7 linked regions of the Homo sapiens genome follow. Changing the gene in region 6 together with the main gene of any one other region gives a genetic interaction. Each region holds a gene or a part of one and is shown on either strand. Other genes may lie near its edges. The genes, in order: RICTOR, SEC23B, SLC33A1, NPRL3, CAND1, CUL5 and CTBP1.

Region 1 (4,433 bases), on a different chromosome or scaffold from region 6:
TCAAAATAATGGTTTATTGACCACCCTTAGTCAACACTACTTTTTATTTATTGGAACACTTTCTTGCCACCCTCATGGAGTTAAAATGCTGGAAAAATGCAGTGTATTTCAGTGGTGAGCATTCCCAGATTTTGTTGCAATATATACATGAACTTTATTTTTAATGTAGTTAGATATGGTATGCTTTTTATTCTGTGTACATGTGTTTGGTTAAGTTTTATTTTAAATTAGCATTATCTTTGCTTTAATATTCTTTTTAAAATTGTTGTTATTAAATGCTTTCTTTCCAAAAAGCTTGTTTATATTAGGAATTTTAAAAATATACGTTGAATTGACTTCATGCTCTTCCCACTCCAGCATTCAAAATAGTAACTATGTATGATGATTGATGTGTTCATTGATTGTGGTAATCTTCACAATGTATGTGTATATCAAATCAAGTTATACACTTTGAATAATACAATTTTTATTTGTCATTTATACTTCAGTAAAGCTGGAAAAAATATTTGTTTAATTAATGTATCAATATAGTAATTTCTTTTAACCATTCTTATTTTTTTTTTCTTTTAAGTCTCCTTAATCTTTGCTCCTTGAAAAACCAAGATCACTTGCTAAAACTTACTGTTTCTAGCTTGGACTATAGCAGAGATGGATTGGCTAGAGTCATCCTTTCCAAAATTTTAACTGCAGCTACTGATGTGAGTATAACATAGCCAGTAAAACTATATTTATAACCAATTAATTCACTACTTTATGAATTTTGGGCTAAGTAAAATTAAGTTCTAAGAATATGATATGGAAATTGAGTTTACTTTAAAATTTTAGTTTCTCCAAGGAACTGCATATAGTACTCAGATTTTTGTATCGGGGGAAGAAGCTGCTAGATAGAAAGGGAAGTATTCTATTTCACAAGAACCAAAAAAGTATTCATATCAAGGGCTAGACCACCAATTCCAGGCATTCTTCCCTTTTCAAGTAGCAGGACTATCCCAAAATAAAATCAAATAGGCTATTTATGCTGAAGTTTTTTTTTTTTTTAATGTATTCATTTATCCTTATAGGCCTGCAGACTCTATGCAACAAAACATTTAAGGGTATTATTGAGAGCTAATGTTGAATTCTTTAATAATTGGGGAATTGAGTTGTTAGTGACCCAGCTACATGATAAAAACAAAACGATTTCCTCTGAAGCTCTTGATATCCTCGATGAAGCATGTGAAGACAAGGTAAAGGTTCATTTTTTATAATTTAATACTTAAATTTTTTTGAAATACTCATTTGACAATTATGTAAAAGTATATAATAGGCATTTTGGAACTAAAAATTTTGCTATTTTTGTGCAATTATAAAAAAATAATGATAATCTCTTTTAGGCCAATCTTCATGCTCTCATTCAGATGAAACCAGCGTTATCCCACCTTGGAGACAAGGGTTTGCTTCTCCTGCTGAGGTAAATTTTAAGTAAATTTTCTGTTATGTTTTTTTGTTGTGTTCTTTGGCAGTGTATATTAAAGATAGATTCAAATCCAAATGGGAAGTACGCTGAAGAGTTTACCTTTTAATATTGAAACATTGTCTTTTCATTATTTTGGGTTTTTCTTTTTTTTTAATTTTTTTGGTCTGTTCATACTTTTCATGACATTTTCCTTTTTTTTATTGAGACGGCCTCGCTTTGTCATCCAGGCCAGAGTGCAATGGTCCAATGTTGGCTCGATGCAACCACTGCCTCCCAAGTTCAAGTGATTCTCCTGCCTCAGCCTCCCAAGTAGCTGGGACTAAAGGCGCACACCACCACGCCCAGCTAATTTTTTGTATTTTTAGTAGAGTTGGAGTTTCACCATGTTGGCCAGGCTGGTCTTGAACTCTTGACCAGGTGATCCACTCACCTTGGCCTCCCACAGTGCTGGAATTACAGGCGTGAGCCCCCGTGCCTGGCTGACATTTTCTTTATTGTGATTGGGTTCGCGTGTTGTTGCAAAGATTGTGAAAATTTATTTGTAATTGAAGTTATAATAAATTATAGTTGACCTTTTAGTTTTAGGAACGAACTATTCCTAAAGTCTTTTAGCTCCTTATACTTTTTTAAATTTTAGTTATTTTAGCTTCTTAAGATACGTTTTTGCCAGACTCAATGTTAAACTATTGCTTGTTTTAATTTGCAGATTTCTCTCCATTCCAAAAGGATTTTCCTATCTGAATGAAAGAGGTTATGTAGCAAAACAATTGGAAAAGTGGCACAGGGTAACTTCTTATTTGAATAAAGTTGAATTTGTGTGTTTTTATCTTCTGAAATTGATTTGTGAATTTAGAGGATGGTTTTTTTATATCAGTGTTTTGAAATTAATAAGGTTAAATATTTAAACATCAATATCAAGTTGAATCCTAAATTCTGCATAATTGCTAGTATTTATAGTTATACATTTTTTTAAACTACAGTTATTTCTTTCATTCTGAACTGTTGACTGTATTCGTTCTATTGAAATTTGACTCTCAACTCATTTGATTTTATAATCTAATTTTTGGCCCTGTTTATCATTTCTTTCATTCTTCGGTCCCTTAATATGGCCTACAACTTTGCATGAGCCCTTTAAGCTAAAACCAAAATAATTTTTTTAAATGAAGGGAGATTGAAATCCCAAGGAGATATAATCATTTAGTTAAACTTTACTTTAGGATACTACTTTACCTAAATCTGAGAATGAACTTCTTGCTGTCATAGGGAAACCTGCTAAGAAGGGAGTAGTTTGAAGATATGAAACAACTTTTCTAGCTTTTCTTTAGCTGGTGATTGCTGTGGCTTCATTATTTTGTTTGAAGTATTATAAGTCATCGAAGCATCTTGGAAACCCATGGTCAAAATGATCTTTACCGATATAAATGATTTTTAGATTTTTCATCATTTCAGATCAGTTATCCTGTTTTCTCTTTTTTGTTAACATAGTTACACATTCTTTTATAGTGTCTATATTGAACCATATTTCATAAGAGATACTCCTTAAATGGACTAAAACTTCCAAGCATACAACTTAAGGCATGAAGTCTTTTAGTATTTGATGAATTGTAGAACTGAGACAAGATGTGATAGGTTTGTTTCCTAGAAGATATTTAAATCATCATAATAAAATTTATTATACAAATCATAGTATTAGAAAATTGCTTAGAATATTGGTGCAGTGCTTGAAAATAGCATAAAATATAAGAGCTATAACAAAGTTACATGCAAGGTATAAGGGAACACAGAGGAGAGATTAATGATTCTGCCTTAGGGATTATCAAAAGAAATGTTGAATAGGAGCCGTAGATGTGATACTTGAAATGGTCTTGAGGAGTAAGTAGGCAAATAAATTAGAAGAAGGGTATCCACGGAAGAAGGAGCAGAATAAAGCTGTATAGATCATTGGAACATTATAGACTTATGAAGAAAGTCATATTCCAATGTAGTTGGAACTAAGGTAAGTGTGGAGTGGCAAGATGAGGCTGGAATGGTAAATTAAAGCTAGATTGTAAAAGGCCTCGTAAGCCATATTATATCATCCTAAGGGATTTCAATTGTATATATAGTGGGGAATCCTTAACAGCTTTTAAAGAGTGATCAGAGTTGTGCTTTAGTAATCTGACAGGTTGCAGTGAAGAGGAGGAATTTTGATCATTGAAGGTAAAGTCTAGAAATATTGACACAAGTTTAGAAACAAGAATTGATGAGTGCCTGAACTTCACTGGTAGTTAGGTTGATTAGATGAGGACGCATTTTCTGGGTATTTTCAAAATAAGATGGACAGAATTTGTGGGCTGATTGGATACAGTAAATAAGAGGTCCAACTTGGCTCATAAGGTTTCTAATTTAATGACAATATATAATGGATCACTATTAAGAGATCACATTTATAAAAAGTGATTCAAGATTAGGCTAATGAATTTTCAATATGTTGAACTGGCATTGTCTGTGCAGTAACCACGTGATGGCTTGAAAATGTGGATCTGGAGCTCAGATTTGTGAGGAAAATGGCAGATATGGGGGTCATTAGTATATAGTACTAGTTGAAACCTGAGCCAAAAGCTTATGGATATGATAGAACATTTGCATTCATAATACCTTGATCTGTCTACCCTTTGCTAAGTATCTGACATATTTTAAATTTAGTGACTCATTGTGATACTATGTGCAATTAAAACAATATTATCCTCTAGGAATACAACTCCAAATATGTTGACTTGATTGAGGAACAACTCAATGAAGCACTTACTACTTACCGGAAGCCTGTTGATGGTGATAACTATGTTCGTCGGAGTAACCAAAGGTGCGTACCCAGTTATCAGATTTAAAACTAGTTCATCATAAATTATTTTTAACATTTCTGAGTTTTTGTATATTCTGCTTCTAACATGATATAGGAAGAATCTTAATGCGCAGCATTAATTGCTCAAAAATTCAG
Region 2 (4,433 bases), on a different chromosome or scaffold from region 6:
CTTTATCTAACTGCTCCCAGCATTTATGTCTCTCTCAGATGAGTCTTTCCTTTCATTCTGTTTTCTTAAAACATTTTTAAATTAAATTTTTTTGAGATATTGTAAATTTACATATAGTTGTAAGAAATAATACAGAGAGATCACCTGTATCTTTTACCCATTTTCCCTTAGTGTTAACATCTTGCAAAAACTATAATACAGTATCACAACCGGGATATTGAGATTTTTAAGGTCAAGATGTGCAGCATTTCCATCACCACACTTATGCACTTTATTTCTATTATTGTTACATTGTAATATATAATGAAATAATTGTACAACTCACCATAATGTAGAATCAGTGGGAGCCCTGAGCTTGTTTTCCTGCAACTAGATGGTCCCAGCTGGGGGTGACGGGAGACGGTGACAGATCATCAGGCATTAGATTCTCATGAGGAGCATGCAACCTAGATCCCTCACATGCGTTGTTCACAATAGGGTTTGCACTCCTATTAGAATCTAATACTGCTACTGATCTGATGGGAGGTGGAGCTCAGGTGGTAATGCACGTGATGGGGGAGCAGCTGTAAATACAAATGAAGCTTCACTTACTTACCTGCCACTCACCTGGTGTGTGGCCTGGTTCCTAACAGGCCAAGGACTGGTACTATCCGTGGCCTGCAGTTGGGGACCCCTGATTTAAAGTGTATGGGAGGGTATGCATAGGTTATATGCAAATGCTACACCATTTTGTATTAGGGACTTGAGCATTTGTGGATTTGGGGATCCACAGGAGGTCCTAAAACCATTCCCCCACAGATACTGAGGGATGACTGTATATAGAAATACAATTGACTTTGGTATGTTTATCTTGTATTCTGTGACCTTCCTGAGTCGCTTACTACTCTTAGGAGTTTTTTTGTAAACTTCTCAGAAATTTCTACTTAGACAATCATGTCATCTGCAAGCCGGGGACAGTTTTATTTCTTCCTTTTCAATCTGAATAACTTTTACTTTATTTTCTCAAAGAATCAGCTCTTCATTTCATTGACTTTATTATCTTTTTATTTTCAATTTCATTGATTGCTGCTCTAGTCATTGTTATTTCCTCTCTCCTGTTTGCAGTAGGTTTTTAAAAACTCTTGGCTGGGTGCGGTGGCTCACGCCTGTAATCCCAGCACTTTGGGAGGCCAAGGTAGGCAGAACACGAGGTCAGGAGTTCGAGACCAGCCTAGCCAACACGGTGAAACCCCCGTCTCTACCAAAAATACAAAAATTAGCTGGTGTGGTGGCATGCGCCTGTAGTCCCAGCTACTTGGGTGGCTGAGGCAGGAGAATTGCCTGAACCCAGGAGGCGGAGGTTGCAGTAAGCTGAGATCACGCCACTGCACTCCAGCCTGGGCAACAGAGCAAGACGCTATCTTGAAAAACAAAAAGAAGTGAATTTATTATAGACAGCTTATAGTTGGGTCATGGTTTTTAATGCACTCTGCTGAGCTCTCTTACTTGGTATATTTAGACCATTTATATATAATGTAATTAATGATATGTTAGGGCTTAAGTGTGCCATTTTATTTTTTGTTTTCTGCTTTTCTTTTTTCATCTTACGTACTTTTTTCCTGCCTTCCCATGAGTTATTTGAACATGTTTTAGGATTCCCTTCTGACTTGTTTGTAATGTTTTTGAGTGTATCTCCTTATTTAGCTTTTTAAGTGGTTGCTCCTAAGTGCCCTAGGTTTTTTTATTTTAATTGAGATGAGGTCTTGCTATGTTGCCTAGGCTGGTCCTAAACTCCTGAGGTCAAGCGATCCTCCCACCTCAGCCTCCCAAAGTGCTGGGATTATAGGCATGAGCCACCACACCTGGCCAGGCCCTAGGTATTACATCATATATGCATAACTTATCACAGTCTACTGGTGTTCAAGCGAAGTCTAGAGACCTTACCTCCCTTTTCAACACTTTACTCTCCTCCATCGGTAATATAATTATGTTAAATATTTCCTCTGCATACATTTAGTATCACATCAGACAGTGTTATAATTTTTGTTTCAAGCATCAAACATAATTGATAAGTCTTAAAAGAAAAACCTATTATATTTCTCTACATGGTTGCTTTTATTGTTTTCTTTCTTTTTAGAGATCTTTTAGCCATTCTTTTTTTCTTTTTTCTTTTCTTTTTTTTTTTTTTTTGTTTTTTTGAGATGGAGTTTTGCACTTGTTGCCCAGGCTGGAGTGCAATGGTGTGATCTCAGCTCACCGCAACCTCCGCCTCCAGGTTCAAGCAATTCTCCTGCCTCAGCCTCCCGAGTAGCTGGGATTACAGGCATGCACCACCACGCCTGACTAATTTTGTATTTTTAGTAGAGACAGGGTTTCTCCATGTTGGTCAGGCTGGTCTCGAACTCCTGACCTCAGGTGATCCGCCCGCCTCAGCCTCTGAAAGTGCTGGGATTACAGGCATGAGCCACCGCGCCTGGCCTACTTTTAACCATTCTTTTAGCATAGGTCTTCTGGTGATAGATTTTTAGTTTTCTTTTATTTGAGAATGTCTTGACGTCCCTTTCATTTCTGAAGAATATTTTCTCTGCATATAGGATTCTGACTAACAGCCCTTTTCTTTAAGCAGTTGAAAAATATTGTGCTGCTTCCTCTGGCCTTTATGGTTTCTTATGAAAAGTTCACTGTCAGTCTCATTGTTTTCCCCTGTAGAGAAGGTGTCATTTTCCTCTGGCTGCTTCCAGTAGTCTTTTTCTGTTGTTAGTTTTCAGGGTGGATGGGCAGGGGCAGAGAAGAAAGTGTAATTATGACATGTCTTGGCATGGATTTCTGTGGGTTTATCCTGTTTTGATTTACTCAGCTTTTTGCTTCTGTAGGTTTCTATCTCTTGCCAAATAGGAAAGTTTTCAGTCCTTATTTCTTTGAATGCCTTTTCACCTGCTCTCTTTTCTTTCTTTCTTGACATCCAGTGACATGAATGTTAGATCTTTTGCAGTACCCCAGGTACTACATTTCCATGTATTTTCTTTCTTTTGTTCATTTGGGTAACTTCTATTGTTTTGTCTTCCAATGTATTGATTCTTTTTTCTGTTCTCTTTCTGCATTGAACCTATGCACTGCGCTTTTTGTTTGTCACTGTATTTTTCAGTTACAAAATTTCCTTTTGGTTCTCCGTGACTTCCACTTCTTTCCTGGGACCTTGTTGTTTCTTTGCTGAGGCTTCCTATTTTTTCATTTGTTTCAAGTGTGTTTGTAATTGCTCATGAAGCATTTTTATCATGGCTGTTTTAAAATCTTTGTCAGGTGATTCTAACATTGTTGTCAACTTAGTGTTAACACCTGTCACTTGTCTTTTTTAATTCAGGTGGAGGTCTTGGTAATCACTTTGTGTAAGTGATTTTTTTATTGAAACTTGGACACTTGAGTGTTTGTATGAGACCCTGGATCTTATTTAAACCTGCTACTTTTCGCTGATTTTTTCTTACACTACTCTGACAGGGAAGGTGGTTGGTGGGGGGGGTGTCGGGGGCACTGGTGGGCTCCATTACTGCCAGGTGGAGAAGTCCAGGTTTTCCACTGGCCTCTGTTGACACCTCGGGGTGTCTAGTGATTTCTTGTTACTGCTTAGTGGGAATGAGAGTTCCAGCTCCCCCATAGCCTCCAGTGAGACCGCTGTGGAGATGGCCTTGTTACACTTGGGTGATGGTGAAAGTCCTGACCCTCCTCCAGGCCTCTGAGGCCACCCCAGTAGGCAGGCGGAGGGACATATATTTTGCCAGGTTGCGGTGGAAGTCCAGGCTCCCCAAATGGCCTCTACTGACACCACAGGGGTAGGAAAATTTTTTTACTTGGCCATTGGGGATGAACTTCCTGGTTCCATACTTAGCCTTCTCTGGCACCATCTTGGTGGGAGTATTAGGGTGCCTTGTTACTGCCTTGTGAGGGTAGAAATTGTAGCTGCCCACCCAGCCTTTGCTGGTTCAGGTGGGTCAGGGCCACAGTTTTTCCTCTCATTTTTGCCCGGAGTACAGTGGTTATTATCTAAGATTGTTCTGTCTTGCTAGGCTGCTTTAGTCCTTTGGCTAGAGAAAGTGGGTGTTTTTTGTTGTTTTGTTTTGTTTGAGTCTGTGCTCAATGACAATTTGCCAGCTTCCTCAGCTCCAAATTCAGAGTATATGAGGCATAAGAAAGCCCAAGGAACTCACTGCTGTGCATCCTTGGGTCCCAAGGTCTTTAGTTTTTCTGTCTTCTCTCCACCTTTAAAAGTCTTCTTATGTTTGGTTTACATAAGATGCCCGAAGTTTTCAGTTGTACTTAGTGGGAGGAATAGAGAAAAGTATATATTCTATTCCTTCCTCGAAATCCTCTGAAAACATTTTGATCATGCTTACACTTTTCTAATTATAACAGTATGGTTTCATTTTAGAAAATTTGAATATGTTTTAAAAAATAAGAAA
Region 3 (4,433 bases), on a different chromosome or scaffold from region 6:
TAAATAAATAAAAAAGTCTCTTTCTATGAACAGCAGAACTCATTAAGTGAAAAGTCATAAAGTTTAAAGCGCACCATCAATAATTTCTTCAGTGTCAGATTCATGCTTAAAATTTATTATCATTATTTTAAGACAACTGTAGAAAGCTGTCTTCCTTATTTTACACAGAACAGTTTATTTCCTGAGAAAACCACTGCAAGCTTACCTGATGTAAAGCATAACTCAGCAGGACTACGATATAGTAATATATAGGGAATCCCCCTTGATGTTCTACTTTAGGAGTCCACCAAACCAGTAGGGCATATTCTAACCCAAGCAATAATCTATAGAGAAAGAAACATTGAGTTGACTTCCATTTTAGCTTAAATAACAACAACAACAAAAACAGAAATCCGTGTGCCTACCATATGAAAGAAGCTGTATCTAAACCTGTTAGGAGGTTAAAAAGATAAAAGTGCATATAAATAATATTGAAAAAAGATGCTTTTCAAATCTTTTTCCATATATATAATTCTACGCTCAGATATTAGTGGTATTGATGAATGTTCCTCATTTTACCCTTTCTTATTTAGTAAGGTTTTATTTCATTTTTACCTGTAGGGCATGGCTTTGTAAAATGTGTTTAATGGCTGGGGACCTGCAGTGTATTTGCTGATAATCAGAGGCAGTATTATCTGCAAAGGAACCATTGGAACTGCCAATAAGGCTAAATGTTCTTTGGGTACTCCCTCTTCTACCAATTTCAGTCCTGTTACAGCATCTGCTGCTGAAAAACCAATCTGCAATATAAAAACAAAAAAGTATTTTAATTCGTGACTTATGAAATATTTTCCTCCATGCATATGTAAGTTCTTCAAGAACCTCAATTTTATTACTGACCCATGACAGTTACAAGTGAGCATCATATTATTATACCTGGTACAACAGTCAAGTTATACGAGGTACATTTTGCCTTATGGTTTTCTAATAATATTAAGTGAAAACAACTGAAAATTCAGTACTGGTAGGGATGGTAGATGGCTATAAATACAACTAAATTTCCACTTCAAAAAGTCCAATGTGTTATAGTAAACGGGGTCAAAAATCCAAATTTACCAATTTGAAAGTTTTAGGTTTAAAAGAACTTAAGCCTTTAATTGACCCAAATCAATCTGGTTAAAATGAAGCATAACTGCCAATATATATATACATTTTTAATGATTTCTGACTGACCATAATAAAATTTCCTAAGTTCATCTAATGTTTCAAAAGTAATTCTGGGAAAACGTATCTGAGAGATTGAATAAAATGAAAGGGATAAAGTATAGTTAGATTAATTCTTTAAAACAGCACAAAAAAGAGTAAGAATTAAATTAAGATTATTTAGATAGCCTCAAAGTATCTCCCCATGAGTCAGTTTTTAATTACAAAAGAAAAAATAGTACTTTTACAATAGATTAGCAAAGCAATTAAAGTTAAAAACAGCAGTTAAAGGGATAAAGAGACATGATATGGCTTTCAGTATAATTCCCTGCAGACATCAAAACATTACTTCTTTGATCTTCCTGTCTTATATACCTGAATAACCTCAACCCAAACAAGAAGAAACATGAGAGAAATGTAACTAGAAGCCCATTCTACAGCATAATTGGCCTGTATTCTTCAAAAATGTCAAGGATATTAAGGACAATGAAAGGCCATACCAACTGAATGCAATGTGTGATCCTAGATTAGATCCCCAACAAGAAAAAAATTAAAGTTATAAGGACTGTTATTGTGTAAAATTTGGATATGGACTATAATTAGACAATAATATTATATCAATTTAAAATTTCCCAATATTGAGTTGTGGTTTTGTAAGCAGAAAACTTGTTCTTAGGAAATACATACTTAAGGTACTTATGGATAAAAGTGCATAATGTGTACAAATTACTCTAAAGTATTTCAGAAGACATATGTAATGGATATACATAGAAAGAGAACATCTACAGAATAAGGAAAGTGTAGCTAAACGTTAATAATTAGATAATCTGGATAAAGGATATAAAGGAGTTCTACTAATACATTTTCAAGAAGTGTGAAGTTATATCGATACAGTAGGCAGAAAGAAATTATTTAGGCAGATAGTGAGGGCAAAAGAGACCTCGGCAGAGCTTCCCTTCTAACAAAAAGCGGCCCCCAAAATCATTTCTTTTCTAACGAAGAGCAGCCTGAAAAACTTGAGTTGCAAACATAGATAAGCAAGCTGGAAGCTTGCACGGGGGAATGCCAGCAGCTGAACCAACAGAAAAGGGCTACCTGGGAGCCAGGCATGTCCACCATGAAAGCTCCACCTTCTCTTTTTTGTTAGCATGTGTACAGTAAAAAAATGGGCAACATGGTGCAGCTCAGGCAGAGAACCTGCCTGCATGATAAAAAATTAGGGTGGGGGCTGCCAGAAATTCATGCCCTATATAAATGGTGCACCTGGACCTTACCGGTTTTTCATGCCCTATTTAAAACAGACACTGCCTCCCCACTAGCTCATCTAAAAAACCCCTTGCATTTCACCACAGATCTGGCAACACATTTTTCCAGGACACCTCTCTGTAGCACAGAGCTATTCTCTCTCTCACCTACTAAACTTCTGCTGTTAACCTCACTCTTTGTGTGTCCACGTCCTTGATCTCTGTGGCTGTGAGACAGCAAACCTCAGGTACTACCCTAGACCACAAGGCCACTTCAATATCACACAATTTTTTTTTTTTTAAAGAAATTATAAGGCCAGACGCGGTGGCTCATGCCTGTAATTCCAGCACTTTGGGAGGCCAAGGTGGGTGGATCACGAGGTCAGGAGATTTGAGACCATCCTGGCCAACATGGTGAAACCCCATCTCCACTAAAAATACAAAAACTAGCCAGGTGTGGTGGTATACGCCTGTAGTCCCAGCTACTCAGGAGGCTGAGGCAGCAGAATCGCTTGAACCTGGGAGGTGGAAGTTGCAGTGAGCCAAGATCGCGCCACTGCACTCCAGCCTGGTGACAGAGTGAGACTCTGTCAAAAAAAAAAAAAAAAAAAAAAAAAAAAAAAAAGGAAAGAAAGAAAAAAAGAAAGAAAGAAAAATTATAAATAGTATACACGGTAACTTCTTGGAATAGAGCCAAAGAAAATTTCACCATAAAAAAAATTAAAGGTAACATATATTTCACTTAAGTCCAGAAAATAATTTCACTTACATTTTACTCATTCCCTTTGTAAAAATAAGACATACAAACTGACTTTAATGTTTAATCTTAAAATGTTAAAAAAGTCTTAAAAGTTATATAGTAGGAGATATTTGTAATACACATATCTAATAAAAGACTCAAATTCAAAATATATTTTAAAAAGTTTGGTCTGGCACAGTGGCTCATGCCTGTAAGCACAGCACTTTGGGAGGATGAGGCGGGAGGATTGCTTCAGCCCAGAAGCTCAAGACCAGTCTGGACATCATAGTAAGAACTCTTTTCTACAAAATATTTTTTTTAATTTACTGGGCGTGGTGGTGGCACATGCCTGTACTTGGGTGACTGAGGTTGGAGGATCACTTGAGCCCAGGAGGTCAGGGCTGCAATGAGCTGTGATGGTGCCACTGCACTCCAGCCTAGGTGACAGAGACCTCATCTCAAACAACGAAATCTAAACAGAAACAACAACTTTACAAATTTAAAGAAAAGGGCAACTTTGGATATTCAAATGGTCAATAATCACATGAAAAGATGCTCAATTTCTTTTGTCATTAGGGAAATTCAAATTATGGCAATAACAAGATGCCATTACACAACCACCAGAAAGGCTAAAATTAAAAAGATGATATACACCAGGTGCAGTGGCTCACGCCTGTAATCCTAGCACTTTGGGAGGCCAAGGTGGGTGGATCACAAGGTCAGGAGATCGAGACCATCCTGGCTAGGTGAAACCCCGTCTCTACTAAAAATACACAAAATTAGCTGGGCGTGGTGGTGGGTGCCTGTAGTCCCAGCTACTTGGGAGGCTGAGGCAGGAGAATGGTGTGAACCCAGGAGGCAGAGCTTGCAGTGAGCCGAGATCGCGCCACTGCACTCCAGCCTGGGGGACAGAGCGAGACTCCGTCTCAAAAAAAAAAAAAAAAAAAAAGATAATATATGTGTTTTCAAGGATGTGAAACTCCTTAAAATCAGAACTCTCTTACACTGCTGGTGGTAGGGAAAATTGGAACAACCACTTTGGAAAACTATTTGGCAGTACAAAATACTATGCATCTTCTATGAACCAGCAATTCTATTCCTATATATTTACCAATGAGAAATGTGCACCTATCTTCACCAAAAGTCACGTATGTGAATGTTTGTAGAAACACTACACATAATAGCTCTAAAAATCTGTTGATAGAATGGATAAATTGTGGCATATCCATACAACGGAATACTATACAGTAATGAGATAAACAAACTAT
Region 4 (4,433 bases), on a different chromosome or scaffold from region 6:
ACCCCAGCAGCCTTCCGCCCTCCGCCTGGGCTCAGGGGAGCAGAGCCTGGAAGACGGCAATGACAGGGTCCTCGTGGGTGGTCACCACCAGCACGCTGCGGAACTTGTCAAACAGCATGAGCAGCTGGGAGCGCCGCGTGTTCTCGTTGTACATAATCTCCTCCAGGTGGTGGCGGCCGCGGAAGTAGTGAAGGAGCCTGGAAGGGATGGGTGGGTGTGAGCCCAACCTGACACCAGCCCCCAGAGGCCTCTGCTGAAGAGCCACTGCTGGGAATCAGCTCTGAGCTGCCCACAGGCCTGAACAGAGCTGGTGGTGAAGGCCAGGGAGGCAGCCACCACAGCCCCCCAACAAGGGTGGGCAGGCCTCCTGGACCCCATGCCCACCACGGTCCCGCTGACCACCAGGTGGGCGGAGTGGGTTCAGGACGGCAGACGGCTGTTCAAACCCAGAGGTGCCCAAGCCTGCGTCCTGATGTTGGGACCAGGGTTCTGCTGGTGGCTTCTTTTTCGTGCTACAGTGAGTCCCACGTAGCTCTGGAGCCAAATGGTCACTGCTTTTTTTTTTCCTTTTTTTGAGAGACGGAGTCTCACTCAGTCACCCAGGCTAGATTGCAGTGGCTCGATCTCAGCTCACTGCAACCTCCCGCCTCCCAGATTCAAGCGATTCTCCTGCGTCAGCTTCCCAGGTAAGCTGGGACTACAGGAGTGCGCTACCACACCTGGCTAATTTCTCTCTTTTTTAGTAGAGACAGGGTTTCATTATATGTTGGCCAGGCTGGTCTCGAACTCCTGAACTCAGGTGATCCACCCACCTCAGCCTCCCAAAGTGCTGAGATTATAACCGTGAGCCACTGTGCCCAGCCTGCTTTTTTTTTTTTGAGACGGAGTCTCGCTCTGCTGCCCAGGCTGGAGGTGCAGTGGCGCGATCTGGGCTCACTGCAACTCCCGCCTTCCCGCCATTCTCCTCCTCCCGCCAAGCTCCGCCTCCCGCCTTCAGGCCATTCTCCTGCCTCAGCCTCCCCAGTAGCTGGGACTACAGGCGCCCGCCACCACACCCAGCTAATTTTTTGTATTTTTTAGTAGAGACGGGGTTTCACCATGTTAGCCAGGATGATCTCGATCTCCTGACCTCGTGATCCACCCACCTCAGCCTCCCAAAGTGCTGGGATTACAGGCATGAGCCACCGCGCCTGACTTTTTTTTTTTTTTTTTTTAATGTCACCATCATTTGGAAGGTCACTGCTTTAGGGTGCTTTCTGCAACTCAGGCTGGCACAGAGGAGGCTAGGATGCAGGTGAGACCTGGACCAGCTGCTCAGAAGAGTTGCAAGTGGTTCTCTCGAGGGCCGAGTGTGGTTCTCAACCGGAAACTCAGTCCCTGACAACCCGACCACTCCCGGGAAACTATGCCCCTGCACTGTCCCCCAAGTCAGGGTGGGGCTGACAGAGACCACTGAGCCACATCACCTTTAACATGGGGGACCCTGGATGCCCGCAGGGCTTACAGTCCTGGGCAAACCCCTGCCAAGTCCCATGAGGGTGAGAACTTGGCACTTAAATTAGCCGGGCGTGGTGGCGGGCGCCTGTAGTCCCAGCTACTCAGGAGGCTGAGGCAGGAGAATGGCGTGAACCCGGGAAGCGGAGCTTGCAGTGAGCCGAGATTGCGCCACTGCAGTCCGCAGTCCGGCCTGGGTGACAGAGCGAGACTCCGTCTCAAAAAAAAAAAAAAAAAAAAAGAACTTGGCACTGCCTCTCAAGGGAAAAGGAACATCTAAGAAGTACTGGAGAGAGAAGAGTCCGAAAAATAGGCATGCCAGGCCCATGGCCCGGCGTCTTGGTGACAAGCCGAACCCTCAGGCCTGGGCAGTGGCACCTGCCCCTACACACCTGAATGCAGAGACTCCATCTCGAACAGGGCCCCATCTGTTCTCAGTGGATTTGGTGGTTCTGTTGCGTACGTCCCTATCCACTTTCTGCCCTGACCCTGCAACTGGCCCCAGTCCCAACGGGTCAACCTACACCCACCTGGCAAACATGCGGAGGTCCTCAGGGTTCTGGGCTGCGGGTACACTGAGGATGGCTGCGCGTTCATGCTCCGACAGGCTGGCCAGCAGGTTCTCCGTCATCCTCTGGTTCAGTGGCGAGTCCCCGCTGGGAAGTAGCTCTGCGCTGGAGTTGTCCATGCTGGGGCTGGTGAGGGTCATGTCATCGCTGCTGGCTGTGGGGGACATGGGTCAGGGTGACCAAGTGGAATTCCAGGACACCCAGGGGAACAGCGAGGGCAGAGCCAGCAGCCAGCCTCCAATGACACCCCTAACTCCTACAAGGGTTAGGGTACATCTGCCTGCAAGCATTCGCTGCTGCCCCACCTCCTGGGTGTGACACGCCCCTCATACGGCTGACTTGGGAAACGGGTAGCCTCCCCTCTGGGGGCAACCTCAAGGGACCTGAACAGAGGTGCGATGTGTGCCCCACAAACACCCCAAGGTGGGCCTGGGCATCCTGTCCCTCACCCAGGATGGAGGACAAAGCACCCTGGGCAGGTGGGGTCCTCACATGAAGCATGAAGCCTACAGCCAGACCTCAGCCAAGGGGGGACTTTCAAAGTCTTCCACCCCCTTCCTTCCCCAAGCCTGGGGACCGGGGACCTGGGACCTGGCAACAGGCTGCTGCCCTCAAGCCACACTGGCCATGACGGCTCTTCTGGGGCGCAGAGGTGTCAGCTGTCCTGGTAGTGGTATGAGATCCTGCTCTGCTCCCAGGCTGGGGCAGAGATTCCAGCACTGATTTGCTGGGCTGGGAGCTGCCCCTAATTCTAGCAAGCCTGCTGAAGAGCCCGGAGACAGAGCTGCCACCTCAGAGTCACGGTGGTGCTAGGAGACAGGAGAGGTGTCTCCACGGGGGACACGAGGCACGTGCATGTGCGTGTGCAGCTGTGTGGAGGCCCCTCATCACTCACAGCACCACCCACGTTGAGCCTCCTGGATGCCACCCCCAAGCGTCTCCCCTGACTACCACAGCGGTGCCCTGGGGGTCCTACTTGGGGAGCCAAAGCTGAGGGCGTTGGGCGTGCTGAGGCTGCGACCGCCGACCCGGGCAGTGAAGGGGACGTCGTCCTCTCGCGGACGGGGCTCCTCCTCGCTGGGTGAGGCCATCAGGCAGACATAGGTGTGCAGCTGGATGAGAAGCCGGCGCTGCAGCATCCACACCACCATCTGGATGAGCTGGGTCTGCGGGTGGCAGCAGGTGAGGCTGGTCCCCCTCCCCACTCCAACTTCCTCCTGGGTGATCAGGGAGCCATGGCCCTAGACATGGCCACAGCACGCTCCCTGTGCTGACGCACAGGCAGAAAGGCCCTCTTCTCAGAAAGGGAGCCCCCAGCTGCCAGCCAGCTCTGCAAGGCCCGCTCACCCTCCTGGGAAGGGAGAGGGGCCAGGGGAACATCTGGATCACACCTGCACAGGCTCCCACCACACACCGGGGCCACCCAGCATCTGGCTGAGGAGCAGGACCTGAGACGTGGAGGCCCCTGTGACTGCTTCGCTGAGCAAACCCCCCACCCTGTGCTGCTGCAGCTGCCCCTCTGCCTCCTCTCTTCTTTGGCCCACTGGCCCTGGAGTTGGACCCAGCCAGCAAGTCCACCTCCACACAAGCCCAGACACTGTTTAAAAAGAGGCTGTGGGCAGGTACCCTGAGAGCAGAAAGTCCTCTCCTTGGATCTACCTGAAAGTCCACCCTGAGCACAAGAGTGGATCCACAAGAAAGCTGAGGCCAGTGACCCTGGGCTTGGGGGTGGAGCACCCCACCCCCACCCCCACCGTGAGAAGGCACGTCCTGGCCAGGCCCTCCAATGTCTCTGGGTTAGCAGGTGGGGCTGGCAGTGAGGAGCAGTGAGGAGCCTTGTGCCAGGTAGAGTCCAGTCCCCATGAGAAAGTACTGCCCAGACTCAGGCGTTGAACAGTAAGGAGTGTGAGACACATCAGTGTCCTCAGATACACATCTGTCTACTCATCTCTGGGAGGGTCAACAAGGAGCTGCTGGCCAGGGTCACCTCCTGGGAGGGGGCTGGGGAACTGGGGATGGGAATGGGGGATATATCCCAGGCAAGTAAGAAGACTTGGTCAAAAGGACTGCAAGATATCCAGACTTCACATGAATTTAAGAAATAAAACAGACGCGGGTGGATCACTTGAGCTCAGGAGTTCGAGACCAGCCTTGCCAACACAGTGAAACCTCATCTCTACTAAAGATACAAAAATTAGCCGGGTGTGGTGGCACACACCTGTAATCCCAGCTACTTGGGAGGCTGAGGCAGGAGAATCACTTGAACCTGGGAGGCGGAGGTTGCAGTGAGCCAAGATCACGCCACTGTACTTCAGCCTGGACAACAAAGCAAGTTTCTATATCAAAACAATAAAAAAAAAGCTGGGCGTA
Region 5 (4,433 bases), on a different chromosome or scaffold from region 6:
GGTCACTACCACACATGGAAACCTAAGAGTAGGAGTTCGGGTAGTATGGCTCAATTACTGCTGAGTTACCACTTTTGTCCTGCTTGGCCAAAAGCCCTAAATGGAAGAGTAGATGAAAAAGACACAATGCATATATTTTTCATTTTTCAAATCACCCTTTTACTGTTCACATTTTAAATGGAGACGAACACACAGGAAAACAAAGAACACTTATATGCAAAATTCATTATCCAAACATAAGACGCAGTATGATTTCTCTCAAGTAGCTTCTACAGATTGTTTTGTATATCTGAAAAGTTCCATGTCCTATAACAAAATTCTTGATATTAAACACAGTATATTATATTGAAAAACAAAAATTCCTCATTCAGGTAAATGATACAGTTACAATTCAGACTAGCCCCAAAGGTAGCTCAGGAGACTTAATCAAGACAATGCTAAGAAAACCCTCCATGGGTAGCAACTATGGTCCAATGTTAAGACAGGCCAAAAAGTTACAGATTTATACTTTAAACAGCAAAATCTGTCGGGACTTTTTTGAGGGAAAGGATCTAGGGACTATTCACTAAGCAAGTGGGCACACAGCATTTTGCATCCACTGCCACTTCCTCCTCCAATAAAAAGGGCTCTGGATCTTTCTTACACGTCAACTGGTGTTACACTGCCTATTACTTTTGCACTTTATAGTTTACAATATGCTTATCAAAATCTTCACAGACAACCTGATTTTTCTCAGACACATGAGTAAATTACAAGGGTGAAAGTTGCTCTAGCAAAGTCTTCTTCTAAAACATTGTATAAATAGGCACAAACATCTTACCTTAATATCATAATGGTCCTTCAAACCATCTTCAACATGATTTAGAAATTCAAAGATATCAAGTCTATCAAGACAACTGTCTAGAAGTGTGTACATACACTCAAATGCTGCCTTTCTAATATCCAGACCATCATCAACCGTATGTTTAAATGGACCCATTTCTACCTGTTAAAGCAAAAAAGAACGTGTGGATATACAATACTTAAGTCAAAGACAAGCTCAAATAAACAGTGTGATCTAACTTACCTCTCTTATAAGCTCCTTTCTAACTTTTGTTTCATTGTAAAGATGTGGAAGAACAGTATCCAATAGATCCCTTATTAATGATGGCTTGTTATGTGCTGCTGAATTAAATGTGACCAAGGCTACTCTTCTCACATTCAAATCTGGGTCTTCCAAAGTTTTTAGGAAATCACCTGAAATATTACAAGAAAAGCAACAGACAGACATGATAAACTTAAAATACAATATACATTATATTTTCTCTAAGTTGATATAATTTATTTTTGCTGGTGTCATTGTTATTTCTTCAGTGACGGTCAGGGAAGAACCTGATGAAACACTAAGTGAACCATAACGTTTCTTTCAGCAGCAACGCAACTATCATTTCTGAAGGTGAATATATTTTCAATTGATAATCCACTCTCAGCACTTATAATGCAGAGGGTATGGAAGAAGAGTCCATAAAGTTCCTCAATATCACTTCTATAGATATAAGATATGACAGAGACAGAGCTAAAAAGACTAATCACATGCTTGATTCTCCTTGTAGTTCACTAAAAGCAGCAACAAAAATATTTTTAAACTAAGTTCAAAATAAGAATAAAAAAATGAAGTGAAGACAGACCCACTGCTTAATAAAGATGGAGTACTATTAGCAGATATACAATTAATCAAATGAAAGAGAAACGTGCCTCCAAAAGCCCTACTTTATTTCTGTCTTCAGTAAGAAATACACGAATTCACAGGAAAATAATATAAAAGGAGAAAATTGAAAGCTAACATAGGACAAAAGCCAGAGAAGCCATCTAGGTATTTTAAAAGTCTGCTTACTCTTGCAAATGTGGGCAAGAAAGTATAATGCAAAGATCTTTGGAGTCACATGGTTGGTGGTTCAAATCATTTTACTTGTTAAATGTATGATTTTGTGCAAGTTACTTTAGGCAAGAACCTCAGTTTCTCAGTCAATAAAATGAGGATTATAAACCTTTTAGAGCTATACTGAGCAGAATAAACGGCGCATATATTGTTGAAGACAATGTCTAGTACACACTAAGTATTCACATGTAGCTATTATTCATCATTATATGATCTCAACTCTATCATCAGCAATCTTTTAGAATACACAGGGAAATGTAGGAGAGATAAAAGACTTGAATGCCAACTTGAAAAACCTGCAATTTGAAAATATGGGAGGAAAGAGAGACTTCAGATACTGTAGATTGGGAAACCCAATGTTGATATCCAAGAAAGTTCCAGCACTGATTTAAAAAAAAAAGTCTGAGAAACAGCGTGGTTTCAAAAACAATATAAATGTACCAAACTAATCTCCCCTCCCCTTTATTTGCATACTAAACTGGTAGATTAGAAGAGTAATTACAATAGAGTATATATCCGCTTTCAGTAAAGCATCTAAAATATTGCTATTATGGACAAAATGGTGTCATGAACTAGCAATTTCAATTTTTAAAAAGTTTCCCAGGTGGTTCTGATGTTCAAATAGTCATGAATACTTAACTAGATCATAATTCAATTAGAATGCTAACTACCTGGCTGAGTAACTGTATCAACAATGCATACTGGTTGACTGCTGTCAACATGGAAAGATATTTCTAGAGATATGGCATGGGCCTCTTCCTCTGTCCTATTTTGCATAATACCAATGTCCTCAATAAACATATCAAAGCAGAAAATGTGTGGGGGAAATGCCAATAAGTTGTTTCTCATATAGACTTTAAATAATTTCTAGGCCCTAGCAATAGAACCCATTTGTGCCTGTGCTTTCCTTATTCTGAATTGGCAATCCCTTTCTATGCAGTTCAAATTTTATATTGTATTTTTTTTCTTTCTGGCACACTGAAGAATGGCACAAAGCTACAAAGCTTCTTTGCCAAATCCCTCAATCCTCCCTGATGGTTATCTCCATTATCCTGTCCTCAAGAAAGCAACAAACTAAATTCTGAGGTGTTTTTGGCTATTATCAAACTCTAGGAAAACCAATGATAAAAACAAAATGCAAGGAGGTTATAAAATCAGAAATAATCCCAAAAGCTAATTCTTGTCTTCACAGAAATAGAGAAGCCCTAGTTTTTCTTGGGTTATCTCCTCTTAGTTCTTCTGGGAATTAGCTCTCCCCCCCTTTATTTTTTATTCTTAGGTTATTTTGACCTTAAATATGGAAATCTCCATAGATCTCCTTGGGTGTTAGAAGTAATAATTGAAATTTGAGGCCTTAATAGCTCAAGCAAGACTCATTTAAATCTAGGGAGAAACTTCAGACTGGCCATATAAATCTAGTATCTTTTTGCTTTATCCACTAAAGCTATCTTAGGTCACCCCAAAAATATGGCTATCAAATATGTAGTTGACTCTAAAGACATGCTGGTATATTATAACTTCATTTATGTGCAAAATCATCTAGGAATAATTACAAACAATACAGGCAAATGCAATTTGTTAAAAGTTGTAAGATCATATCAATTTTCTTTTAAACAATTATTTTATAAGCATTTTAATTCCTCGATATTTCTAGTTACTAAGTTCAAGAGTTTCTTGAGAATTCTAAAGTCCAAAAATCAGTATGTTTATCTTTGTTTCCACTTACCTATGCAGTTCTTTAACAGTGGATCAATAGGTTGTGGATGGTCAGAAATTGTAAATTTCACAGCCGTAACCACTGAGCTTCGGGCATATGATGAGCCTAGTTAAAAATAAATTGCAAGTCTATTGGTATGTAGTCCACTAAAACTCACGGACATCATTTTTAAACCACTCCAAATAACACCAGTGTCTTCAATGCCTTAGAATTCTCCTTGGCCAAGAAGGGTATTTCTTATTGCACACATGAATCCAAAGGAGCAAAATTAACTTACTTATGAGCACAAAATATAATCCCATTAGATTTCAAAGAAACAATTCCTTCTGGGAAGGAGGGACTTGAAGCAGCAGTGGACGATCTCGCCCTCACAAAATAGAACTAGCTAAATCCAAAACCGCTTAAAAATCTTCAAATTTTTTACTAAAACAGAAAGCAATGTCTAAGAATGAATGGCTATTACTGCTATTAATATTACTACCTTTTACTTGTTCTAATGGGGATGACACTGGTAAATCTGAAAACTCTTCCAGAATCTTCCATTTGAAAAAAGTACTGTCACCAATTATACTTATTGTAATTAGTATCAACAAGCTCTTCAGATTATGTTAATTCATTAGATACATCTTTTCCACATTTTAACACAATATAGTAACATTAAAATGTAGTTATCATGAGGAATTAGAACAGATTTAACCATTATCTAATTACCACACTATCCTTTAAAACAACAAAATGTCATTTGAATATCACTCCATACTACGAAAGACAGTTTTTCTTCATCACATACTTAGCTTT
Region 6 (3,615 bases):
TGCCTTTCTGTACTCCATTTCCTACTATCTTCAAAAACCATACTTTAAAAATATTACTTAACATCAAATAAGATATAAAATAATTTGCAAGAAAATTTGAAACGTGCACCACAATGAATAAAAATCCACGTTGAGCCATTCTTTCCTCAAGGGGAATCAATTTTCTCTTTCAAGTTGTTCACGTCCTCAAGTCCTAAAATTTCCACTACTCTGGGTATTCAGTTGCCAGCAACTAGTTAAGTTGCTACTTTGGATAGACTGAAAGGAACATGGTAAATGTTGCCTTCTGACGATTTAAAAAATGTTTATTTTTAAAATATATAAATATATATGTACATATATTTGGCAAGTTTACTGCTCGTATTAAGAGTGCAACAATTTTGCTTCTGTTTTTCAGGTCTTATGTTGTGGTTTTTCTCTTACCCCTAGGTGACTGATTCAAACCTGAGGCTACAAATCCCTAATCATGAGACCTTAAAATACCAAAATACTTCTATGCTACAGATTAAGAGATCAGTTACATAACTATATCAGAGCAGGAGATTTCTGTGTTGTTTTTAATAAATTCAGATATGGCATAATAAATATTAGGTATATAAACATTAAGTGTGTTAGTAAACACACAATATGTTTAGTAAACACACTTAATATGTTTGTTTTGCTATTTTGGCTCTGCAATCATAATGACCTACCTATCTCCATAAATTTTTTAAACTATTGAAGCAACAATTAATATAAGCTTCATTTTTCAAAACAAGCTTTCCAGCCATATTTAAAAAAAAAAAAACTCCTCATCATTTAACAACAACTAAAATAGCAGTCTCCTGCTTAAAGAAAACCAACATTTGAAAGTTGAAAATATTTAATACCATTTTTAGGTCACCATTAAAATCCAGTTATTATACTGAGCAATGTTTGAACAATTTGATACTATTAAATACTTAACTTCTCACCTACATCTGCCGTTTCCCAATGTTGCATTGACCAGCTCACTCTTTTCATCAAAAGAAACCAAGAGTGCTATTTCTAGTTTTAATTGCATTTTTTAAAAACAAAAGATAACAGCATTTTTCAGTGCATGAATATCTGAAGATCCTTCCTTGTGCAAGTACATTTTTTAAGAGAGGAAAAAAGAGAAAAAAGCAACAAGAACCCCACCCTCACCCTTCCCAACTGTATTTCTCCTGGTGGGTACAAATCAAATTCACTTTTAAAAGTTGATAATGGGCTCTTCATGAATGCAAGTTTCTCCACAAAACAGCATGCTGTCAAAGAGTGTGCAACATGAAGGGAATGCCATCATGCTAACTAATGTGATTGGCAAAATATAGTTGTTTTTGTAAGGTAAGGCAGAGATTTTAATATTTATGTAATCAAAGTCCAAATAAACCTTTCTCCAGCACAAACTTTACAACTTTCTGCCCAAGCACTCCAAAATTTGGGTTCTAAATATTGTCCATGATATTCAAAATTATGCCATATATATGAAAGTGTTGATATCAGATTCATCTCTTCTGATGTATTTGTGCTCTATTAGCCACTCTATTTGCTCTTTTATCATTTTCTTTTGTGGCAAGAACATGTTTTTCAAAATTTCTACTAATTCAGTCTGCAGCTGAGCATTACTAATTTTCTTTCTCATTTTCATTATTTGTATGATAGCTTCCTAAAAGAAAAAATAAAAATAAAAGCGCATTAATATACGAAATTATTTTAAGTACAACAAACTGAAAAATGACTTTTTATGCATATTCATCCTCTATCCAACATCTACCCAAATGAATAATAATCACTAGGGGATTAATGTTGAGACTAGTATCTTTTACTTAACAAATAAAAACATCTTTTGTTTTCTCATGCCCCATAAAAGAGAATCTGCTTATTGGGGTGGGGGGATAGGGGAGGGATAAGCATTAGGAGAAACACCTCATGTAGATGACGGGTTGATGGGTGCAGCAAATGACCATGACACGTGTATACCCATGTAACAAACCTGCACATTCTGCATATGTATCCCAGAACTTAAAGTATGTATTTAAAAAAAATCTGACTATAGAGATTTTGAAAAATAAGGAAAAGCAAAATTACCTCTGCTTCTCTGCTGAAAGAAAACTACACCTAATGTTTTAATATTATTTCCTTCAATTCCTTTTTTCCCATGCCATTCACATTCTTAAAAGTTATCTTACCTGTGAAAACAATGTGTATATAACCTGGTATCATGTTAAACATTAATTAAAATATAACAAACCCCTTACACCAAATTTTTCCCTTGTATTCAGTTATTTCTTTGTATAGCAGTACAGGTCAGGTGGGGTCTGTTTTAAAAGTCATTAAGTAGTACTCTTTATATATTTACCAGATTAATTAATTATATTTGCTACAAATATTATCTTCAGTTTATATTGACTCAATTAAATGTTTTTAAGGTTTTTTTTTTCCCCTTCTTCTCTTTAAATACAGACACAAGGTTTTGCTATGTTGTCCAGGTTGGTCTTGAACCCCCAGACTCAAATACTCCCCTGCCCTGGTCTCCCAAAGTGCTAGGATTACAGGTGTAAGCCACGATGCCCAGTCACTTTTAAGTTTCTAAAGAAATAAATCTTTTTCATCTAGGTCATTTTATCAAAATTTTTCTTGATGATTTCCTTAATTACTGTTAAGTTTACAATAAGAGTTATCAGAAAATCATTAAATATTCTTTTCTCTTTTACCTTTTCCAGTACCAGCTCTCTCTTTACCCAACAAAAGGCATGTATATGCCGGGTGTGGTGGCTCATGTGTGTAATCTTAGCACTTTGGGAGGGTGATGTGGGTGGATTGCTTGAGTCCAGGAGTTTGAGAACAGCCTGGGCAACATGGCGAAACCCCATCTCTATAAAAAATACAAAAATTAGCCAGGCATGGTGGCGTGTGTCTGTGGTCCCCGCTATTCAGGAGGCTGAAGAAAGAGGATTGCTTGAGCCTGGGAGGTGGAGGTTGCAGTAAGCTGAGATCACACCACTGCACCACAGCCTGAGACCCTGTCTCCAAAACAAAAGGCATATATCTATCTTAGCACAGATTAGAGTTTGTTGTAAAAGAAATGTCAAAATAGAAAAAGAAGTAACATTTGCTTTTAACGTTTAAAAATATAATTTTGCTGCAAATCAACAGACTTGGGAGTCAGGCACTATTCAGTAAGAGAAAAACTCCTTCAACTTCCCCTATATAGATATGATAACCAGCCAGGGAGGGTGGCTCATGCCTGCAATCCCAGCAATTTGGGAGGTTGAGGTGGGTGGATCGTTTGAGTCGTGGAGTTTGAGACCAGCCTAGGCAACATGGCGAAACCCCATCTCTACAAAATATACAAAAACAAATTAGCTGGGTATGGTGGCACGCGCCTGTGGTCCCAGCTACGCAGGGGGCTGAGTCAGGAGGATCACTTGAGCCTGAAAGGCAGAGGTTGCAGTGAGCTGAGATTGTACCACTGCACTCCAGCCTGGGTGACAGAGTGAGACCCTGTCTCAAAAGAATAGAAAAATAGGCCGGGCATGGTGGCTCACGCCTGTAATCCCAGCACTTTAGGAGGCCAAGGGGAGCGGATTACGAAGTCAGGAGTTCGAGATCAGC
Region 7 (4,433 bases), on a different chromosome or scaffold from region 6:
ACGGCGCTAGGACTGAAGGCCTCGGGCGTGCTGCACCGCGGCCCTGACAGGCTGGCTGAGGATCTGCCCTGTATGGACCTGCACGGCCCCACAGCTCCTAGAGAGCTCCACCCTCCTGCCCAAGCCCTGAGCTGAGGACTGGGCGGGGGCTCCTGGCTTGGTCCCCCTGTGGTACCCCTTTTCTGGGTCCCCTCCAGCCCAGCCTCCCCCACGCAGGGCCTCAGCCCACGAGGTGGGACTCCCTGGGACGGCAAAGCCCAGGGCCGTCTGTTCTGAGGCGTGGTCTTTGACTCCAACCCCAGCGGGGCCTGCAGCAGAGCCTCCGTCTTCGGAACAGGCTCGCTTTTCATGCACTTTTGCAAAAAGCCCTGCGGGTGGCTCTCCCTCGGCTTCGTGGCCAGGGCTTTCCTGCAGCCCCCCCATTTCATTCCAAGAAGTCCACCCAGCCACGGTGCTTGGCTGACAGCTGGGCAGGTCACGGTGGCTTTTCTTTGGTGCACTGCTGCCCATTAAAGCCTCACACCCAAGGTCCTCAGGGACGGCAGGGCTCTGACCAGCATCCACGTGCCACACCCTGTCCCCTAGAAGGCTCCAAACCCACTGACTCTGTGAACAAAGGAAGGGGCAGCGGGAACCTGGCCTCATCCTCCTTGTGGCTACAGGCTGCTGGGGCAGCTAGAGTGGGCGGGTGGCCTCTGACACGTGTGTACACACATGCACATACATACAAGCTCATACAAACATGCAGACACATGCACCCACGCACACTTGCCCACACACATACACATCACTGTGCACACACGATGACTCCCTGAAGGGCCTGGAGCCAGCGGGAGGCAGCCATCCCCAGCTCCACCCACTCAAGGGGAACGCAGGGCTGAGGCTGCACTGCGAGCTGTGCTGAGGCAGAGGCCGACCTGAGCACAGCCCGTTCCAGCTGCAGATGTCAGAGGCCGACCTGAGCACAGCCCTTTCCAGCTGCAGATGTCAGAGGCCGACCTGAGCACAGCCCGTTCCAGCTGCAGATGTGAAACCTGAACCTGGCAGCACGGAAGTCACAAGGGCCGACCCAACGCCCCCAGGTAGCTGCATCTGTCCCCACTGTGACAACAGCAAGGGCTTCAGGGGAATTTGGTGTTCAAAGGTATGAGGTTCTGTCTTGTCCAGAGAGTATTTTAGATGTCCTGAGTAGAACTCAGAACACAGAAAACGCTGTCTGGGCAGACAGGGCTTCCCCCAGCAGGGCTGGCAGCCGCCGCCATGTGGCTCGCTGAAGGCAGGGTCTTGCCCAGGTGCAGATGGCTGCTGGGAGGGACCTGCCTGACACCCCCACCTGTACCTGCCCCGCAGAAGTAGAGTCCTGTGTCCCCGGCTCCACGCACCTGCTTGACGGTGAAGTCGTTGATGAGGTGGTGGTTGTGCTCGTTGAGGCCGCAGTGCAGGGTCACGCAGTCGCTGTGGAAGAGCAGGTCCTGCAGGGTGCTGACACGCTGCAGCCCCAGCGCCCGCTCCACGCCATCCGACAAGTAAGGGTCGTAGAAGAGCACGTTGAAGCCGAAGGCCTTGGCCCGCAGCGCCACTGCCTGCCCCACGCGACCTGGTGGCGTCAAGACACAGTGTGAGACCCTTGCTCACCCGTGGCCGGGAGGCCGGCCCCGAAAGCCAGGGTCGGAGTGGCCTCTGTGCCTCAGTTTGACCATCTGCCAAGGATGACACCAGCTGTGGTCAAGCCAAGGTGCCCACGCACGCTCCACACGAGCGCTCCACGTCCGCTCCAACGCGCCCACTGCCAAGGCGGAGGAGATGCACAGGGGTGGAAAGGGTACACTAGCCCCTCGGCCCACACCAGCTGCCAGCCACACCACTCCCCTGCAGCCTGTCCACAGGACGTGACATGAACCACTCAGTGTCAAACGGACTGGTCAGTGGGTCTCCACCCACCCAACACATGTCCTCCGTGCCCAGGCCCCTCCGCTGGCCTTTCGATCCACCCATCAATGTTTCCGGCATCTCAATTCCAGCCACCACTACGTGGAGACGGCAAAGGGGGCAGGAGGGAAACTTCCAGACCAGGGAGGCCCCGCTGGGCTCAGGTCCTGACCCCTTCGAGTGGAGCGGCAGAGAAAGCCATCCCAGGCAGACGTGCCTGCCCCCACCCCAGCAGTCCAAGGCTGGCACGGGTCCCAGCACAGGAGCCGTGGAGCTTGAGCCACCGTGTCTGGCTGGGGCCGGCTCCTCCTCGGGGAAGGGTCTGCAGAGTGCTCGTGCCCACTGTGAGCCAACAGCATGGCTGCAAAGGACACAGGACCCCAAGCCCGCGAACGTGGTGTCTCCTGCATTGCCTCAGAGGGAACCGCTACACAGGAAGGAAGCAGGTTGAGCGCCGGGGCGGGTGGGAAGTGGGCGCAGTTTCAAAGGCGGCAGCCAGGGCAGGCCTCCCTGAGAAGACCAAGCTTGCTGGAGACATAAGGGGACAGGAAGGGAGCCAGAGAGCTGGAACAACACGTGCGAGGGGCCCGCGGCGGCCTGAGGGCCAAGGAGACCAGACCGCCAGGCACACAGGGTGGCCGGACGTGGCCCAAACGCCCAGGGGACCCCCAGTCACTCTGGGAAGAGGACTGGGGGAGGCTGGGAGGCCAGTCAGAAGAGCTGAGGACCGTCTAAACGCACTACATCCTAGAAAGGGAGGCGCCTGTTCTACGAGAAGGAACATGGTGGCTCCTTCCATCCCCAGGGACGAGGCTGCTGCAGGAGGGAGGAGGGCTCGGCAGGCGGAGGTGGGAGCAGCAGTTCTGAGGGTTGCAGCCACGGCCGGAGTACCCGGGCAGCTCCCCAGGTGCAGAACAGCCCGTCTGTCAACGCCCCCTGCCAGGGATCCCACCAAATGGGGAGGAAGAGAACACAGGCAGACACAGAGAAAGGCGTCTCCCACAGCGCAGAAGGCGGACGACACGCTGTTTCCCACTGCGCACAACACAAAGCCCCGGAAGTCGGGCTGCCGGTGGCGAAAACCAGCTAAAGCCGCGGGCCGGCGCCGGCCACGCCTGACACGGGAGAGCAGCGGCTGTTCGGGGCGAGACCATTCTTCACTTCTGTCTCTGCCATTCTCTTCCACATGATGTCTGGCTTAGGATAAGAAATTATGATGATGCAGGTGAAGAGACAGGAGGATGTAGTTTCTAATTAGAACAAAACACTGGAAGCGGACAGACGCACAGATGACCGAGGCTGGAATCAGCCAGCAAAACCTCTTAATAACTACTATAAACATGCTCAGAGATGACAACAAGTGTGGATGTAAACAGCAGAAAAATGGAGGCTTCCGGAAGATGAATGGTAACTCTATAAAGAACCACATAGAAATTCCAGAACGAAAACATCCCTCTGAAACGGAACTCCCTGGACAAAGCTAACTGCAAGAAAAGGATCGGGAGCTTGAAGGGAGGGGCTCAAAGTCAGCAGATGGCATCCAAACAGAAGCAGAGAGAAAAGAATTTAAAAAATAAATTTTAAAGAACAGGCCTTGGTGGCTGACGCCTGTAATCCCAGCACTCTGGGAGGCTGAGGTGGGCGGATCACAAGGTCAGGAGTTCGAGACCAGCCTGGCCAACATGGTGAAACCCCGTCTCTACTAAAAATACAAAAATTAGCCGGACGTGGTGGCGGGCGCCTGTAGTCCAAGCTACTCGGGAGGCTGAGGCAGGAGAATGGCGTGAACCTGGGAAGCAGAGGCTGCAGTGAGCCGAGATCGCGCCACTGCACTCCAGACTGGGCGACAGAGCGAGACTACCTTCCACAAAAAAAAAAAAGGCAACACATTTTCGGACAAAGAAAAGCAAAAGGAATCGGTCACTGGTGAGCCACATTTCTAAGACAGTCTTTAGGCTACAGGAACGTGACGCCCGAGGACAGCCAGAATCGGGGGGCGTAAACAAGGCAGAAAGGGTGGATGTGTCGGTTGATATTCAAAAGAAAAATTACTGAAAAATTCCTTGACAGACTCATGACTAATAGCTTCTTGTACGGTTTTCTGCATAATAGACGTGGAAAATCGGCCCGAGGGTGAGAGGAGCCACCGCGGGCCTCTGGCCGCCCTGGACGAGTCTTCACAGGTTATGCTGGGTGGCAGTGAGTTATGAAGGCGTATCCTAATCTCTAAAGTAAAACTAAACACGATCACTAAGCAGAGTATAGGTTAAAAAGCAACAACAGATGCAAGGAATCATTTAACACCTGATTAATATAAAAGAAGGCCAGAAAGGAAAAACAAGGATGAACAGAAAACACGTAGCCAGATGACACCGAAATCCAAATCATCAGCAATTACACTAAAAATAAATGAACTGAACACTCAAGAGGCAAAGACTGTCAGACTGAAAAAAGAAAGAGGAACTAACTCTATACTATTAATAACAGACACACTTTAAACATAA

Evidence for each region.
Region 1: changes in CUL5 (region 6) and RICTOR together harm fitness more than expected from each alone (negative genetic interaction), as found in Homo sapiens cells (one large-scale study listed by BioGRID).
Region 2: changes in CUL5 (region 6) and SEC23B together harm fitness more than expected from each alone (negative genetic interaction), as found in Homo sapiens cells (one large-scale study listed by BioGRID).
Region 3: changes in CUL5 (region 6) and SLC33A1 together harm fitness more than expected from each alone (negative genetic interaction), as found in Homo sapiens cells (one large-scale study listed by BioGRID).
Region 4: changes in CUL5 (region 6) and NPRL3 together harm fitness more than expected from each alone (negative genetic interaction), as found in Homo sapiens cells (one large-scale study listed by BioGRID).
Region 5: changes in CUL5 (region 6) and CAND1 together harm fitness less than expected from each alone (positive genetic interaction), as found in Homo sapiens cells (one large-scale study listed by BioGRID).
Region 7: changes in CUL5 (region 6) and CTBP1 together harm fitness less than expected from each alone (positive genetic interaction), as found in Homo sapiens cells (one large-scale study listed by BioGRID).

The regions. Positions count from the first base shown.
Region 1 is NC_000005.10:38,955,460-38,959,892, reverse strand, and holds part of RICTOR (rapamycin-insensitive companion of mTOR), read left to right. Parts: coding exon 1-114; intron 115-571; coding exon 572-698; intron 699-1,061; coding exon 1,062-1,226; intron 1,227-1,373; coding exon 1,374-1,450; intron 1,451-2,162; coding exon 2,163-2,241; intron 2,242-4,188; coding exon 4,189-4,298; intron 4,299-4,433. UniProt on the Homo sapiens protein: Component of the mechanistic target of rapamycin complex 2 (mTORC2), which transduces signals from growth factors to pathways involved in proliferation, cytoskeletal organization, lipogenesis and anabolic output.
Region 2 is NC_000020.11:18,555,593-18,560,025, forward strand, and holds part of SEC23B (protein transport protein Sec23B), read left to right. Parts: intron 1-4,433. UniProt on the Homo sapiens protein: Component of the coat protein complex II (COPII) which promotes the formation of transport vesicles from the endoplasmic reticulum (ER).
Region 3 is NC_000003.12:155,833,263-155,837,695, forward strand, and holds part of SLC33A1 (acetyl-coenzyme A transporter 1), read right to left. Parts: intron 780-4,433; coding exon 595-779; intron 324-594; coding exon 206-323; intron 1-205. UniProt on the Homo sapiens protein: Acetyl-CoA transporter that mediates active acetyl-CoA import through the endoplasmic reticulum (ER) membrane into the ER lumen where specific ER-based acetyl-CoA:lysine acetyltransferases are responsible for the acetylation of ER-based protein substrates, such as BACE1.
Region 4 is NC_000016.10:86,674-91,106, forward strand, and holds part of NPRL3 (GATOR1 complex protein NPRL3), read right to left. Parts: intron 3,230-4,433; coding exon 3,040-3,229; intron 2,218-3,039; coding exon 2,025-2,217; intron 198-2,024; coding exon 32-197; 3' UTR 1-31. UniProt on the Homo sapiens protein: As a component of the GATOR1 complex functions as an inhibitor of the amino acid-sensing branch of the mTORC1 pathway.
Region 5 is NC_000012.12:67,306,704-67,311,136, reverse strand, and holds part of CAND1 (cullin-associated NEDD8-dissociated protein 1), read right to left. Parts: intron 3,741-4,433; coding exon 3,645-3,740; intron 1,237-3,644; coding exon 1,067-1,236; intron 986-1,066; coding exon 821-985; intron 1-820. UniProt on the Homo sapiens protein: Key assembly factor of SCF (SKP1-CUL1-F-box protein) E3 ubiquitin ligase complexes that promotes the exchange of the substrate-recognition F-box subunit in SCF complexes, thereby playing a key role in the cellular repertoire of SCF complexes.
Region 6 is NC_000011.10:108,102,241-108,105,855, reverse strand, and holds part of CUL5 (cullin-5), read right to left. Parts: intron 1,667-3,615; coding exon 1,472-1,666; 3' UTR 1-1,471. UniProt on the Homo sapiens protein: Core component of multiple cullin-5-RING E3 ubiquitin-protein ligase complexes (ECS complexes, also named CRL5 complexes), which mediate the ubiquitination and subsequent proteasomal degradation of target proteins.
Region 7 is NC_000004.12:1,214,609-1,219,041, forward strand, and holds part of CTBP1 (C-terminal-binding protein 1), read right to left. Parts: intron 3,984-4,433; exon of another isoform or gene 1,598-3,983; coding exon 1,383-1,597; exon of another isoform or gene 1,351-1,382; intron 1,083-1,350; exon of another isoform or gene 938-1,082; intron 1-937. UniProt on the Homo sapiens protein: Corepressor targeting diverse transcription regulators such as GLIS2 or BCL6. Has dehydrogenase activity. Involved in controlling the equilibrium between tubular and stacked structures in the Golgi complex.